2 separate regions of the Homo sapiens genome follow, and region 1 is linked to region 2. A link means that fine-mapping ties the variant in region 2 to the expression of a gene that starts in the linked region. Tissue or cell type: whole blood. Region 2 holds a variant in brackets; the other region holds the start of a gene. All regions are shown on one strand. Distances are between the middles of the regions.

Evidence for each region. PIP is the estimated chance that this variant, and not a neighbour inherited with it, causes the effect.
Region 1: it holds the start of BAMBI, and the variant in region 2 is fine-mapped to the expression of BAMBI in whole blood (TOPMed, PIP 0.96).

Annotation. Positions count from the first base shown.
Region 1 is chr10:28,673,792-28,681,975 of GRCh38, forward strand. BAMBI (BMP and activin membrane bound inhibitor) reads left to right here and starts at 3,730. Exons shown (of 3, transcript NM_012342.3): 1 at 3,730-4,182; 2 at 7,467-7,754. The coding sequence starts at 4,107. RefSeq lists silencers at 3,198-3,757, 4,483-4,627.
Region 2 is chr10:28,804,172-28,812,355 of GRCh38, forward strand. It overlaps LINC01517 (long intergenic non-protein coding RNA 1517), which reads left to right. Exons shown (of 4, transcript NR_120652.1): 3 at 1,876-1,967; 4 at 3,719-4,048. Among named protein-coding and RNA genes, the nearest start is that of LINC00837, 12 kb to the left of the region's middle. The variant G/C (reference allele first, on the strand shown) is at 4,190.

The DNA.
Region 1 (8,184 bases), 130 kb before region 2:
TATAATTTCAAAGACATCATTTAAAATCTTTAAAACATCTATACGGCCAGCATGGTGGCTCACACCTATAATCCCAGCACTTTTGGAGGCTCAGGCAGGAGGATTGCTTGAGCCCAGGAATTCTGAGACCAGCCTCAGTAACATAGGGAGACCACCATCTCTACAAAAAAATTAAAAAATTAGTCGGGCATGGTGGCTCGCGCCTATATATATACATATATATCTCCCATGGATAAATTATATCTTGAATGCTGTTTGAAGGTAATAAAAAACTATTCTACTGTTTAACGGTTTCAGTTAGGTCTAGAATCAGTTTTCTGTTCTTGGGTATAGAGAGCTTGTTCCTAGGTATTTTCGGAATCCCTTTGTAGATGTAAAAAGAATTTTGGTCGTTGATTTCATTTCTTGCTTTAAACTTCAAAAGGACAGTAGATTGTACTATTTTTTTTCCCTCTACTTATCAACCTACATGTAGGAAAGTAATAACTGAATTATGTGCAAAGCATAAGTAAAATTCTCTAGAGAAGCAATTTTCCTTAAGAATGTTAAATTGAATTAAAATTGTTGCCTATTCTCTCAACTATTGATATGGCCTTATGATTGACACATTATCCCTAAACTGATTTTGATATTCTACATTGATTCAAACACTCTGATTCATTTAGTTGAAAAGTCCATGTCTTCCCCAGAACCATTAGATAAAGTGCGGACTTGTTTCTCTTTAATTTCTGGTCATTTAGAAAGTTTGCCCATTAATAATAAAAACAAAATAGTTGAAATCATTGTCTAAAAAATGGATCCCAAGTTCTTATTCAGAATTGGACTTGGAACAAAAAAATATATACAACCTGGAGTGCTCAAAGTCAACATTAATTCAATAAAATACAAATATCTTAGTTTGGTTTCTTTGGGTTGCAAGGAAAAGAACCTTAAGTAAAAAGGGGACTTTATTAAGGTTACTGAATTAACCTAAGGACAAGAAGTGACGCTGAGTGCCTGGAAATCCATTTGGATTTATGTATTTGCCACTTTGCATATCTTCATTATTTTTCTTCCTCTGCAGACAGGTGGACTACAGCTGCCCCAAAGCAAAATTTTTATGTCTCCCGTGAAATGACCTCAAGGGACTGAGCAGCATGTCTGCTCAAAGACACAGAAGAGAGAATCTAACTGACCTAACCTGGGTCATGTGACTAGCTATGGCCAGAGATTAGGAGATCAGAGTCTCCTAATCAGGTTGCCAACGCCCACTCCGGGAAAAGGGACATTCTCTGACTTGGGCTGGGAGACACTCAGAAAGTGTCTACTAGAATGCAACTTTCACCAACACATTCCCCAGACCTCTTCCATTAAATATTTATCTGTATCAAAGGGAAGTATAGTTCATTTCTGATACGTCTCTGTTCACTTCTTCACATTTTATGCTGCAATCACAAAGACTTGCTTGTCATCCCAACTACCTGTTCGCTGCTTACCACTCCTACTCACCTACACAATCATATTTCATGCCTAAGTCCTGTGGTCCTCTGTGCTTGTAATGGTCTTCTTCCAATCCTTAATGTCATTGCTTCTAGACTTTACCGGCTCTCTTTACCTTCCTAGACTAGTTAACCTCTTTCTTTTAGGCATTGTAACATCATGCACATAAATCTCCATTATTGTCCAGCTCCATTGTTTTGAGATTTACTATCTAGTTTCTGACATCTTTATACCCCCAGACATTGCAAGCCTCGCCTACGGTGGGAGGCCAGGTTGAACTAACATACCCTGAAAGTTTCCTTTTAGCTAATAATTGACTCTAAAAGAGAGTGTAATCATTACATAAAAAGTATTGTCCTCTGGGCGCGGTGGCTCACGCCTGTAAATCCCAGCACTTTGGGAGGCCGAGGCGGGCGGATCACGAGGTCGGAAGTTCGAGAGCAGCCTGACCAACATGGCGAAACCTCGTCTCTATAAAAATACAGAAATTAGCCAGGCGTGGAGACAGGTGCCTGTAATCCCAGCTACTCAGGAGGCTGAGGCAGGAGAATGGCTTGAACCCGGGAGGCGGAAGGTTGCAGTGAGCCGAGATCGCGCCACTGTACTCCAGCCTGGGCGACAGTGCCAGACTCGTCTCAAAAAAAAAAAAAAAAAAAAAAAAAGTCTTGTCTGCATAAAACCCTTACAATTGTTAACTTGTCAAGGTTCTAGTAGCCAGGAAGTTCTAATCAAACTCGGCCCCAGGACTGCCTTGTCAGCACGCCCCTTGAGAAACTTTTCTGAGAAACCTGCTGTTTACCTGGTGCCCTAACCAGTTTAATTTTCTTTTAAAACTTCTACTGGATTTCTCCTTCTCTCCTTTTAGATGCAATTTTGATCTAGAGAAGTAATGGTCTGAGCATCAGTTTATGAAATTATTTTATTTTTCTGCACATAAACATTATTTTTCAAAGACAATTTCATTAACTACATCCTGCAGCTCTGCAGACTTTCAACAACTTTAAAAGGTTAGGCGTTTGAGATATGTTCGCCTTGACTTTCAGTCCTCAAGACATATGTACATTTTTCTTAGTCTCAAAGCTCATGTCTGCACTCTAGTCCTAAAGGATTTGTCTTTATAATTCTCACCTTAGCATGAAATGTGCTTCTCTTTCTTTCCTTCCCCACCCCCCACCCCCTTTTGACATATCCGGTAGGGAAGCTCTGGCAGATTCTCAAGAAGAATTTTGCAAATGGTCGACTTTTGTTCATCTCAGGTTTTGGAGGGAGAGGATAAAAGAACATTCCCTCAGATAATGAGTTTTAACCTTAATTCCTTCCAAAGCGGAGGGGGAAACAAAACTACAGCAAGACCACCTTGAGTACCTTGGGAAGGGCAGCCCCGCGATCCCTAATAAATGAATTAGCATCTCAAGGAGGAGATCACTGCGGGGCTGATATTGATCAGGGTCAGCCGGCGTGTTTGCCAGCCATTGTTTGGGGGGTGGTTAATTGAGTGTCAGTCTCGGCCAGTGTCGTCTCGTTGGCGCCGGGTGCTTTTGGATTTGCTAATTTTCGTTAAGTGTCTCTAGCCCGCTACTCGTCCCGCGTACCCGGGAGAACCTAGCGGCTCCTAACGGATCAACAGTCAGTCTGTCTGGGCTTTATTGATCCCATGGCGGGCAGCTCGAGGCGGACACGCTGAGGGGGTGGGGGGCGAAGGCTGAATGCAGACCCCAGCGCTGGGCCGCCTCCCCCGGGCTCCCACCCGAACCCTCCTCCGCCACCTGCACAGGCCGGGGCATTGTCACTCGCCCCTGGGGGTTCCAGAAAACGCAGTGCGGCCGGGGAGGACGACCACACGGACCCCCTGCGTGTTTCGGGGGGCACCCAAAAGAAGCCCCGCGCTGGGGAACGCTGACCACCCGAGGCTGAGCCGTCAGGGTCTCGGAGGCGGGTTCCCGAGCCGGTCCCGGGGCTGGGCTCCCCCGGCGCCTCGCGAAGGTCACTGACGCGCAGGCCTCCGCAAGGGGGAGCGCGGGAGACGGCAGCGCACCAGCCGGGCGCCCCAGCCGGGCGCCCCAGACGCCGGCGCCGCTCGGAGCCGCCGGGCAGGTCCCCCAGCGCTCGCGTCTGGGCCCGCCCCCCGCTGCGGGGCGGATTGACAGGAGCCCGGCGGCCAATCGGACGCCGTGGGGCGGGGCGAGGCGGGGCGGTGCAGGCCGGCTCCCGGCGCGGGGCGCTATTTACGGCGCGGAGCCGGAGAGACCTGGGCTGGCGCGGGCGGGAGCTGCGGCGGATACCCTTGCGTGCTGTGGAGACCCTACTCTCTTCGCTGAGAACGGCCGCTAGCGGGGACTGAAGGCCGGGAGCCCACTCCCGACCCGGGGCTAGCGTGCGTCCCTAGAGTCGAGCGGGGCAAGGGAGCCAGTGGCCGCCGACGGGGGACCGGGAAACTTTTCTGGGCTCCTGGGCGCGCCCTGTAGCCGCGCTCCATGCTCCGGCAGCGGCCCGAAACCCAGCCCCGCCGCTGACGGCGCCCGCCGCTCCGGGCAGGGCCCATGCCCTGCGCGCTCCGGGGGTCGTAGGCTGCCGCCGAGCCGGGGCTCCGGAAGCCGGCGGGGGCGCCGCGGCCGTGCGGGGCGTCAATGGATCGCCACTCCAGCTACATCTTCATCTGGCTGCAGCTGGAGCTCTGCGCCATGGCCGTGCTGCTCACCAAAGGTGGGTGCCGGGGGCGCACGGGGCCCGGGGTCCCGTCCTCGCCGCGGGGCTTTGGAGCCGGCTGCAGAGGCTTTGTTAGCGGCAGGCGAGGCTCCCTCCTGCGCCGGAGCCGCAGGTCGCGACAAGTTGCTGTGTTCTTAGAAGTCGCGGCGGTGGCCTGGCGCGTGGATGCGGACTCCGATCTAAGGGCAGGCGCTGATCAGAGGGTCCTCCTGGCTCTGCCTGCGGGGAGCGGCGCGTTTGCAGCCCAGCGGGGAGCGGGGCCGGAGTCTCGGCCTCGACGCCGCCGCTTCCGCACCCTGGGGGCTCGGGCGGCCGGGAGGAATCGCAGATCCTGGCCTGTAGCTGCCGCGTGCCCTCAGCGTGTCTGTGTGAGTGCCTCAGGGTGTATTTCTGTGAGTGTGTCTCTGAGTCTCAGTATCCCTAAATGCATTTTTGTGTCTCTGAGTGTCGTTGTGTTTCTGAAAGTGTGTCTGAACCTCTGTATCACTCAGCGTATCTCTGTGTCTCTTTGAATGTATCTCTGAATGCATTTCTGTGTCTCTTTCTGAGTCTTTGTGTCTCTGAATGTGTGAGTCTCTGTATCTCTGATCTTGAGTGTGTCTTTCTGAATGCATTTCTGTGTCTGTCTCTAAGTGTCTTTGTATCTCTGAATGTGCATCTGAGTCTCTGTGTGAGTGTGTCTCTGCGTACATCTCTCTGTGTGCGAGCGAGTGTGTGGGTCTCCCTGAGAGTTTAGGTGTCCGAGGTGTGCAGAAGTGTGTGTTGTGTTGCTTTTCAGCAGCCGGGAGGAGTAGGCTCTGTCAGCGTCTCACTGCCACTCACCTCATATTTTACAAACAGGACCAAAAAAAAAAAAAAGGCAGCGGGTCAGTTTCTTCTTTCCTCTGCAGGCTTTCACCTTTTAGAAAGAAATAACCCGAACTGTCTCCGAATTTCAAGGTTCTCCTCACCTCCCTGCTGTGAAATCTACCTACTGTTCTGTGAACAGATAATTTTTTTAAGTAGGAAGCAGTTTAGTCTTTGCAGCCCCCTACTTCTCTTTAATTGCTATGTAGCAGGCATGAGGTTAAAGCATAAGCTAGCCCAGCGAGGATGATGTGCTACAGTATTTATTTATTTTGGAAGGAAGGGTGTAATTAACCCTAAATAACAGCCCTTGTGGCTTGCAGAGGGGAGCCTCCTGGCCCTATCAAAGGCGGGCAGAACAGGGAGGGACTGAGGCTGACATGAAGTCACAGATACCGAAACTATGTGCCTGATAATGATATAATTAGGGGATCAGAGATTTCTGACGGCTGCGGACTTCAAAAGCTTTAAAAGAAGCCAGCAGTCTCTCCTGTAGCCATCTTGACTAAAGCAGACATTTTTGTTTAATCACTACATACAGTAACGAGAAGGGGACAGAAACAGAAGGGCATTGTTCCACAGTTTCAAAATACCAGTCCCCTTTCTGGCCTTTTGCATGCCACAGGAAGAAACTTTATGAACGACAGAAATATAGTTTTAATACAGTGGTACAAAAGTCCATTCTCCTTGCTTAAAATGTGGCTCCAATTAAAAAAAAAAGGTAGTTAGAACTTTCCCAGTTACCTGTCAAAATTTTATTAGGCTGTTTTTAGGTCATTGAAAATAGGCTCTCATAAACATTTAAGCAGCATTTTACTTGTATTCAGTCTTCCTTTTCTGTACAAGGTCTGAAGCTAATAGGGTCAAAATGGGCTTTTAATCTGTTTTATTTATACTTTAAATCTATATATGGAATTTGTCAAACTAGGGATATGTAGTCATCACCCCAGAAGACTGGTGAGCTTTATGTGGAAAATAAAGTGAGCTTGGAGGGAGGAGGAGAAAGAGCAGAGAAGTGGTTCTGCAAAGCAAGGTTCTTACTTGAAGCAGAGAAGGAACTTGGGCCCAACCAGTGCAGATTTAGGAGCAAGACCCCTAGCTTTGGACTGTTAAGGGTTGCCAAAGATCTGTGTTTAGCGGGCTGGTTTTCCTTAGAACCGAAGCATTAGCAGCGTCCGGTGAAAACTGAGCATACAATACCGTGGTCTGGAATTTGGACAGATAATTAAATGAGACACCTTACTGGGGCGTTCAGAGAGAGGGGGAAGAATAAAGGTAAGGGTGGGAAGAGGTTTGTAAAACAGCAGATCCCGGTGTTTAATTTCAGAGTGGAGGTTTCGGATCTTCAGACGGGAAACTGGAAGAGGCGTGTGCATTAGTTTAGTTTACTCGCTGTGGCATGTGACAGCGACCAGGGTCCACTAGGTGGATATTGTATTAGTGAGAACTTGAAGACCCAGATTATTTCAACGAGAAACTGATATTAAAGCCTCCAATCTTGCCCTGCGACAAAATGTGAACGGAGCCATGCAACTCACAAAATAAGTTTTTATAAAGGAAACTTTTAATCACTTCCTGTAGAAAATTTGAGGTTTCCTTAAGGATTTTTCATTCAACCAGCAGAGGATTTTCAGTTTCAGTGTTTCCCCTTTTAGATCACATGTCGAATTACATGTAAAACTTGTGAGGAGGAGGAGGAGAAGTTAGCCTTGCAGTTTTATACTCCCCCCACCTTTTATGACTTTCCATTTGGGCTGAAAGAAATTGACTTTGGCAAGCAAACCACTAATTGTAAACTGCCTAGTTCCTGTTTTACAATATACTGACTAAAAGCTCCTCTGCATGAAAAGATCTTTATAGGCAAAAAGTTTGCCTTTTCTAGAGAGGTTGCAAATAGCTGCCTAGTTTCATAGTTTTAAAACCTCCTGACCTGGGCAGTTTCTAGATTGTTGTGTTTCTAGTTAATAACTTTATAAGGTGTTAGCTAAAGCTCTTAACTCTTGGTGCAGTCCTGTGGGATAGTAAACAATTCAGTAGTTCCGATCAAATATTTATACTGACAAAATCAAAAAGCCTAACATTTTTATGTTGTATGGTCATGTAGGATTAAAATGAATAAATAATGTGTTATACCTTATGGTAGGAGAAATTATACTCATTACTATTTCCTTCAAAAAGCAAAAGTTTTTTTAAAATGACTCTAAACTCCTCAGAAACCTGCTATTGGGATTACTACATTGCCAAAATGACGTTTAACTGGATTGAAACTTACGCACTGGCTGCAGGAAGGGCTTCTCCAGGCTCTGTAGACTGGAGCCCTCAGCTTGGATGATCTAAAAGTTCATGCCTTTGAATTTGGGATTTAGCAGTTGCCTAAATAGTTGCTTTATCTGGTCTCTGGAGCAGAGTTTGAGGTGGTTTCTCATTGTTTTCAGGTGAAATTCGATGCTACTGTGATGCTGCCCACTGTGTAGCCACTGGTTATATGTGTAAATCTGAGCTCAGCGCCTGCTTCTCTAGACTTCTTGATCCTCAGAACTCAAATTCCCCACTCACCCATGGCTGCCTGGACTCTCTTGCAAGCACGACAGACATCTGCCAAGCCAAACAGGCCCGAAACCACTCTGGCACCACCATACCCACATTGGAATGCTGTCATGAAGACATGTGCAATTACAGAGGGCTGCACGATGTTCTCTCTCCTCCCAGGGGTGAGGCCTCAGGTAGGTGGAAGCCGTTTCTAACCAGAATGCCTGCCTGATCTATAGACTTGTGACAGCCACGACTTTGTATGTCTGCTATTGATTTTGTTGTTAATGTAATTAGAGACACCAGAGGGAGAAGCCTGGCTGGATGCAAAGATGCATCTTGATTGAGTGGCTTTTATGTCTGAGCATTAGATGTCTGTCTACATAATAGGTTTTGCCTGTTTTTTCAACATTTTGAAGACATTAAAAGGCCATTACATCTCAGTAATGACAGTCTGTAAACAAATGCGTTTGTAAGCTTCTTCAGATAGTTTTGCAATGTTTTCTAAATATCGTTGATTTAATTGTAAGCTTCTTTTTAATGGAATTCTTGGTTAAAATGAATTGATGATTATGAATATCCCTAGGAGGAGTTAGCATGGAGTTTGATCATTTTCTTTGTACT
Region 2 (8,184 bases):
TAAGACGGAGTCTCGCTCTGTAGCCCAGGCTGGAGTGCAGTGGTGCGATCTCCGCTCACTGCAAGCTCCACCTCCTGGGTTCATGCCATTCTCCTGCCTCAGCCTCCCGAGTAGCTGGGACTATAGGCACCCACCACCACGCCCAGCTAATTTTTTTGTATTTTTAGTAGAGACAGGGTTTCACTGTGTTCGCCAGGATGGTCTCGATCTTCTGACCTCGTGATCCGCCCACCTCAGCCTCCCAAAGTGCTGGGATTACAGGCTGGTTAATAGATCTTATATACAAATATCACCGGATGCGGCGGCTCACGCCTGTAATCAGCACTTTGGGAGGCTGAGGCAGGTGGATCACTTGAGGCCAGGAGTTCGAGACCAGCCTGGGCAACATGGTGAGACCCCATCTCTACCAAAAATAGAAAAAGTAGGCCAGCATGGTGGCCTGCACCTGTAATCCCAGTTATTCATCAGGCTGGGGCATGAGAATTGCTTGAGCCCAGGAGGCGGAGGTTGCAGGGAGCCGAGATCGCACCACTGCACTCCAGCCCAGGAGACAGAGTGAGACTCTGTCTCAAAAGAAAACAAAACAAACAAATATGTAGTTACTTACGGGATTAGTTATAAAAACAGACAATAGATGTGGAAGCACTCTGACAAAGTTAAGAAGACCCCAGAAAGAGAGATATTTTTATTCTTAGAAACCATCTTTTTTTTGGACTTGTTTTTGTTCTAATGTAACCCTCAGGTAAATGACAGCCAGCCTTCCTAACTAGGGGGTAAGTTTGACTCAAACAAGTGATTAACCATTACCCTGCCTCTGTCTTAAGACTTAGTGAATGAAATCTCCTATCTCTGGCAGCAACCCTCTCCACTCATCTTTTATTGGATTCTTGGGCAAAGTTTGTTTTTCATCTCAGTTACTTTGCCTCCTTTTTATAGGGAGTCTACTCCGAGATCAAAGGCAACCTATAGCAATTTATGAGAAATGAAGGAAGTGGGAGAGATGCTAAGTTACTTTAAGGGATGTTCTGAAATCATGAATCTAGCTGGAATAGCTGGTGTTGGCTGTGTCCAGAAGAGCTGGGACAAGGTACTGCTTTTTGGTGTGGGGAGAGGGACATGAGAGCTTGCTCTTTGGAACATCGGCCTTCATGCCAAGTCTGATGGGTGCTTCCTAATGCTGAATAAGCCTCGGAGTCACCTGGGTTCCTTTTAATTTAAAAATGTATTTTAAAATTTTTGTGGGCACATAGTAGGTGTACATATTTGCAGGGTACATGAGATGTTTTGATACAGGCAGGCAATTTATGAAGAATGGGGTATCCATCCTCTCAAACATCTATCCTATGTGTTACAAACAACCCAATTATACTCTTTTAGTTATTTAGAAATGTATATTAAATTGCTATTGACTATAGTTGCCCTGTTGTGCAATCAAATAGTATGTCTTACTCATTTTTTTTTTTTTGGTACCCATTAACCATCGCCACCTCCCTCCAAGCTCCCTACTCCTTTTTCTTGCCCTGTTGCCCAGGCTAGAGTGCAGTGGCATGATCATGGCTCACTGCAGCCTTGGATTCCTGGCCTTTTAAGTGATCCTCCTGCCTCAGCCTCCTGAGTAGCTAGGACTACAGGTGCATGCCACCATGCCCAGCTAACTTCTTTTATTTTTTTTTTATTTTTGAGATGAAGTCTCACTCTGTCGCCCAGACTGGAGTGCAGTGGTGCAAAATCTTGGCTCACTGCAACCTCTGCCTCCCTGCAACTTCTGCCTCCCGGGTTCAAGCAATTCTCCTGCCTCAGCCTCTTGAGTAGCTGAGATTATAGGCACTTGCCACCATGGCTGGCTAATTTTTTTTTTTTTTTTCGTATTTTTAGTATAGACAGGATTTCCACATGTCGCCCAGGCTGATCTCAGACTCCTGACCTGGATCTTCCCACCTCAGCCACTGAACGTGCTGGGATTACAGGTATGAGCCCCCACACATGGCTACCTTGGGTTTCTTTTGAATGATGCAGATGGTTGGGCCTTACTTAAATGATTCTTCAGGTCCCTAGTGAGTCCAAAGCTTTCGTATCTCAAAGTGTTACAAGTGTCTGGAGGCTCAAACAGCCTCGAGAATCACTGATCTATGTCCCTGATGTCTAGCAGTCTCTTTAAGTCGGTCCTCTTCCCTACAAATATGCTTATATTTTTCAGAGGACTCCTAAATAAGTCCTTGGTTAATCCTGAGTCTGGTTCATTCACTGGCAAAGAACAAAGAGAAAATTTACAAACACGAGAAGGCCTCAGAAGTCAGACTACATAAATTATTTTGGAAAAGGCTTTTCCTTCTTGTATGATTTTCAGAGGGACTTTGGGAAACACACACACACACACACACACACACACACAGAGTCTGGGAGACAAAGTAAACAGGAAAGAAAAGATAGTCTTTTATTGCTTGACGGTTTAAGTGAAAAAAAGTTTATTTCAAAAAATATTTTGACTCCCCCTTTTTTCCCTTTAAAAGTGCATCAAGCTATTTTTAGGAGGGCAGGGTGGCTGGTTTTGGGGGACGAATGAAAGCATGACATCACCATGCTATTTTGGTAGCGCAAGAAGAGAAACATGCCAGGCTAGGTTGGCTTGGGCTTGGTTCTGTGTGTTTGGGAGCTGAATCGCGTCTTTTTCTAATTTGGTTTCTCTCAGAGCTGTGGCTCTTCACTGGAGACTGGAAGCATAATATTTATTCAAAGCTAATTTGTAAACTTCATTTTCAGTTGAAGGTCTGGAATGGAAACTCCTATTGTGATCTTAAGGGCTGTAACCCAGAGAATCTGGTTCTTCCTGGAGTATTTCAGCAGGGATCAGGTTTGCAGACTTTTTCTCAAGGGCCCCAACGAGAAACCTGACTGCCTGCTCTATTTTAGGTCAACTGTGGGGTATCGGTTTGGAAAGCAAATTCTTAACCTGAACTTTTTGTTGCTGATAAGGCTTTGCGGCTAGCAAAGAGGTAGCTTTCTCACTCATTTAGATTTTGCAGTGGAATCGCTCCCTGCATGTGTATTATTGTCAGCAACTCCTATTTTCCCCAGAGAGGTTTTGAAATGTTCTTTCTGAATGTTCATGTTTATAACTTTTCTCAAGTGGAGCTCCTGCTTCCTAAAACACATTCAGCTTGTTCAAGAACTTGCCCCCACCTCCCACCCCTGGAGACAAAAGTATACCTTTGTGTGCATCTGTTAAGCCTAAGATGTCTGAGATGGTTGTTTTCTAAACTAACTCACCAATCGCTTTATCATTAAAAGCAGCATTTTACTCTCATGTTCCTAACCTATTTATGGGTCTGTGATAGATGGTTATTTTTTTGGCAGGCTTGAGATAAGCCTGGGTCAAGGAAACAGCTTGTGTTCGTCTCTTTAAGCCTCACTCATCCTTGCCATATCATTTCATGATTTCCTTTCCTGTTATCTTCAAACATTCCCTCAAAGCAGAAATTGACAAGAGCGAGGAGGTTGGGAAAGGGCTGGCAAAGCAGTTGTTTTTCTTCGTGTTCTAAAATGGATGTTTTCCTTTCCCCCACAACCCCCACTCCCACCCCACTTGCAACCTTTCTTTTTTATTACCCACCCCTGGGTCTCTAAAGATGATGGAAAAAAATAACTCCTTTCCCTCTTTAAAGAAGGGTCCCTAAGAGGTTTCTAATCAGCTCACTGTCAGCCTGTTTCCTCTGATCAGCTTAAATAGGTCTACTTGAAGTTCACAACTGCCAAAACCGCGTGTTCAGACTGAAAGGCTGGGAGCATTTCAGACGCATTTATGAACTTCCACCAAGATGATCCGGCAGGCTGAAATCGCAGGGAGAGCGTCTGTTCAACAAACCCTTTCTTCTTGATTGAATTAGTGTTACCCACTAACAGGATGAGGAATTCCCACTCCACAAGCTGACTTTTTTTCCTCTTTCCACCTCCCGCCTCCCTCCATTAAAATGTAAACTTGATTCCTGTGTCCTTTGCCGGAGCCTGGCTTCCCTGTAAGCCCATCATAAACATCTTGGTAGAAATGCAACTTTTAACCTCTCCTTGATGGTTTTCCGTCTAACTTTATACATGGGGAAAAAATGGTGAAAGACGTTATCTCTGGCGGGTGCAGGCGTGTAGGGGCAGGAAGTTTCTGCACTGTGGCTGCTCTGGTCCTTTCGTAACTGAG[G/C]TTTTCCTGCCCTGTCCTTTAGCAAAGAATGGCTTTGTTAACCATTAGCCACTGACAAGAGTGTGTCCATTTCAGCAAAATTAATAAGAGATAGCATTTTTCTTCCTTCTAAATGGCCCATGTCAGTAATTAACATCGCCTTTCATTACTCAACTTGAAAGCGCCTTCTCGGCCTCCCTCTGACCTTGCCCTGGCTTTGTTAAACTGTGGCCTCCAGCCTGTGAGAGACCTAAATGCAGAAAAAGTTTTGTGACCGAGATGCCTTGAAAGAATCATTCGACAAATATTTATTGAGTGCCTACTGTGTGGGGCTACCAAGTTGAATCAGACATAAACTCTAATGGAGGAAAAAAGAAAAAAACTGGGAGAAAAGATAAAAGGGGTTTGTTTAAAATAGCCCTAAGATAACAGATAATGATGGTTACCCCAGGACAGGAGCAGATCCGGTGTTGTGGGGGCCTGGGCTAATCGAGATGGCCGAGGGGAAAGTGGGTGAAAGTTTTATGGAAAAAGGGACAATTGAGAGAAACATTATAACGGAGTTCAGAGCAAAAAAGGAATATAAAAGTTCAAAAGAGCTTTCCTTACTCTTAGGGAATGAGGGAAGGCGTAACTTCATAGAGAATATATGTTTAAAGCTCAAGAGAGAACTTTCCCCCTTCTTGGTTGGCTGCTTGAACGTATACCTAGCCAATGAGGAGTTCACCATTGAAATGTTAATCATTGCACTAAAGTCTAGTTTAGCCAACCCTCACCCAAAAGTGTGTGAAATATTTTCCTGTTATGTTTTCCCCGCCAGGAGAATTCTTGGTCACAGGGGTAGAAGTGTCACATTAGGGTGAGTTGAATTAGACTCTATGTTCTTCATGACTATAACCATGAACTCCATTGTTCATGGAGCCACCCGGAAAAGCCCAAATGCCCAGGAGGAAAGAATCCGTGGAAAAAATTATGGTGCAGCATCGGATGGCATCTACTTGCAACCAGGATGGTGAAGATTTTTAATGGTTTGTGAAAAAGCAAAAATGTCATATTCTTATTTTTGTGAAGAATGTGAATATTTTCATATTGAGAAGTACAGACTAGAAGACTAAACATTAAAATGTGATTAATAGTTATTGGTAGGTGCTGGAGAAACAAATGATTTGTATATTTCTTCCCTGTGATTTTCAGGATTTTCCAAAATGTTTACAATGCACAGGTGTTACTTTTGCAATCAGGTAAAATGCTATTAAAGAATAAGGATGCTGAGGGAAAAAAGGACTTCTTTATTAAGGGGAGAATTTAAATGTAGATAATTATGAAAATGGCTGGGAGAATTCTTTCCTGTGCCACGTTGAATGCCATCAGTTTTAAAAACAGAAAAACTGCACAACCCTGCAATCAGAACCGAACACGAGAGTCTGTTTTAAGTAACAATGACTATCATTCAATAAACTCGATGGGAGATTTCCCTTTCAGCTAAAAATTTGTCAGTTGATTTTTTTAGAAATTCTTGCAGTGAAAGAATCATTTCTCCTTGTCTCAGATGGAGTGTAGCTCTCGTAGATTTTGGGTTCTGAATTATTCAAGGGTCAAAAATCTACTACAAGGTTGTCCTGATTACTTTTTTTTTTTTTGTAAATTCTTTGTTATTGTACTCTTGCTCGAGCCTAAAGATACAAAAATCTAAAGTCCAGCTATTCATCTAATTATGGCCTTCACTAAATAATAGATACAAATAAAGAGGTTTCTTGTGCATAAATGAACAAGAAACCTCTTTATTTGTATCTATTATTTCGTAGTTTTCTTCTACTCAAATGGCATAAATCAGATAAGTTATTTATTTCACAATTGGTGGCAAGTCTGCAAAAGTCGCCCAAATTGTGATGCAGCTGTCTGCAGATCATAAGCAGAGGAAACAGCTTCTGCTTTCATTCAAATCCTGGGCCCTGCTATTTGCAATAGAAAAGCTAAGTTGGATGTGGGGGTGGGATGGAGGTGACAGAGAGAAGGCAGAGAAATGGGAAAAATGCAAACCTGTAGTTCAGGTTAAAATTGGTTTCCAGCTTCTTTTGGCATTTTGTATCATTTATGCCTCACAATATGAAAAGCAACAACCACCCCTGCGGGTGCCCCTCCCCCAGGCCTGGATTGTTTTTTTTGTCATCTGAGTCATTCAGAATTGTGGGGCAGAAAACACATAAACAGAATGAGAAATGCTGTTTGCCATGAGCACGCAACTTTTAAAACTGTTTCAGGCCTTGAAAGAAGGTTCCTTCCTTTTCTCCTTCCAAAGACTCAAAAAGAAAAAAGAAACTCAAGAAAATACTTCTGTCTTTACAATGAAAGGATTCACGTCCTGTCTGTCCCTGGCAGCCGGAAAGAACAGAGTTGCTGGCTGAGAAGTCAGAGGTGACTTAGGGAGAGAAGTCCAGCCCCAGAGCGGAAAGGCTGGCGGTCAGTAGGGATAACATGGTCTCCACTGAACCTAGGCTGGGGGCAGGAGCGGGGAGCGGGGAGGGAGAAGGGGAGCAGATCTGATTGACCTTGTCCTTGGGAGTCTCAGGAATGTGAAGGAACAATCTCCTTCGAACCTGTTTTGTACCAACTAGTGTCCCAGATACTTAGAAATATTTTCTTCTCCCTCCTTGCCTTGCTTCCTGGGAGTTTATAGGAAACCCAAATTTAAAACATGAACAAAAGCGAAAACCGAATCAGGTAGGTGGGAGAAGAGAATACGGATAATGCACTGCAAGCTTGCTATGGTTGACCAAGCAAGTTAACTCTGAACTTCACAGCATCAAATGCAAAACAAGGGGGTGGGTTGGCAGTGAGTGGAGGAAGCGGACCCACAGTTGTGTATTTTTGGTTCTTTGTGAGGAAGATGGCATGCCCACAGGAAGAGAAAAACCTTGGCCACCACTGGATAGAAAATTCTCCTGTGTTGCTTTATGTAGGAGACGTTTGAAATGTGGTTGAAAATGTACTAGGAAACGTTTCTAAGTGCTTTGCTTTTCCTTGAAACTTTTTGGCCTTCTCTGTCCATTCAACCTTGGTTATTAAAATTTATTCTCTGATATTTCATCCTATAGCTTCTTGTGTAGAGATGAACATACGAAACTCAATCATTTGTATCCCTACAGAAGACTTTTTTTTTTTTGGAGATGGAGTCTTGCTCTGTTGCCCAGGCTGGAGTGCAGTGGCACGATCTCAGCTCACTGCAACCTCCACCTCCCGGGTTCAACTGATTCTCCTGCCTCAGCCTCCCAAGTAGCTGGGACTAGAGGTGCCTGCCACCAAGCCTGGCTAATTTTTGTATTTGTAGTAGAGACGGGGGGGTTCACGATGTTGGCCAGGCTGGTTTCAAATTCCTAAGCTCAAGTGATCCACCTGCCCTGTCCTCCCAAAGTGCTGGGATTCCAGGCTTGAGCCACTATGCCCGGCCAACAGTAGACAATCAAAATTGTCAGAGATGCTTGAACTAGAGCGACTCCATCTTGAATAGAGGCTGGGTAAAATGAGGCTGACACCTACTGAGCTGCATTCCTAGAAATAAAGGCTTTCTAAGTCACAGGATGAGATAGGAGGTTGGCACAAAGTACAGGTCACAAAGGCCTTGCTGATAAAAGGATGCGGTAAAGAGGCTGTCCAAAACCTACCCAAACCATGATGGAGAGAAAAGTGACCTCTGGTCATCCTCACTGCTCATTATACGCCAATTACAATGCATTAGCATGCTAGAAGACACTCCCACCAGTGCCATGACAGTTTACAGATGCCATGGCAATGTCTACCTTATATAGTCTAAAAAGGGGAGGAGCCCTCAGTTCTGGGAATTGCCCACCCCTTTCCGGGAAAACTCATTAATTATCTACTCCTTGTTTAGCATAAAATCAAGAAACAACCATAAAAATAGCCGACCAGCAGCCCTTGGGGCTGCTTTGCCTATCGGGTAGCCATTCTTTTATTTCTTCACTTCTCTAATAAACTTGCTTTTCACCTTACTCTGGATT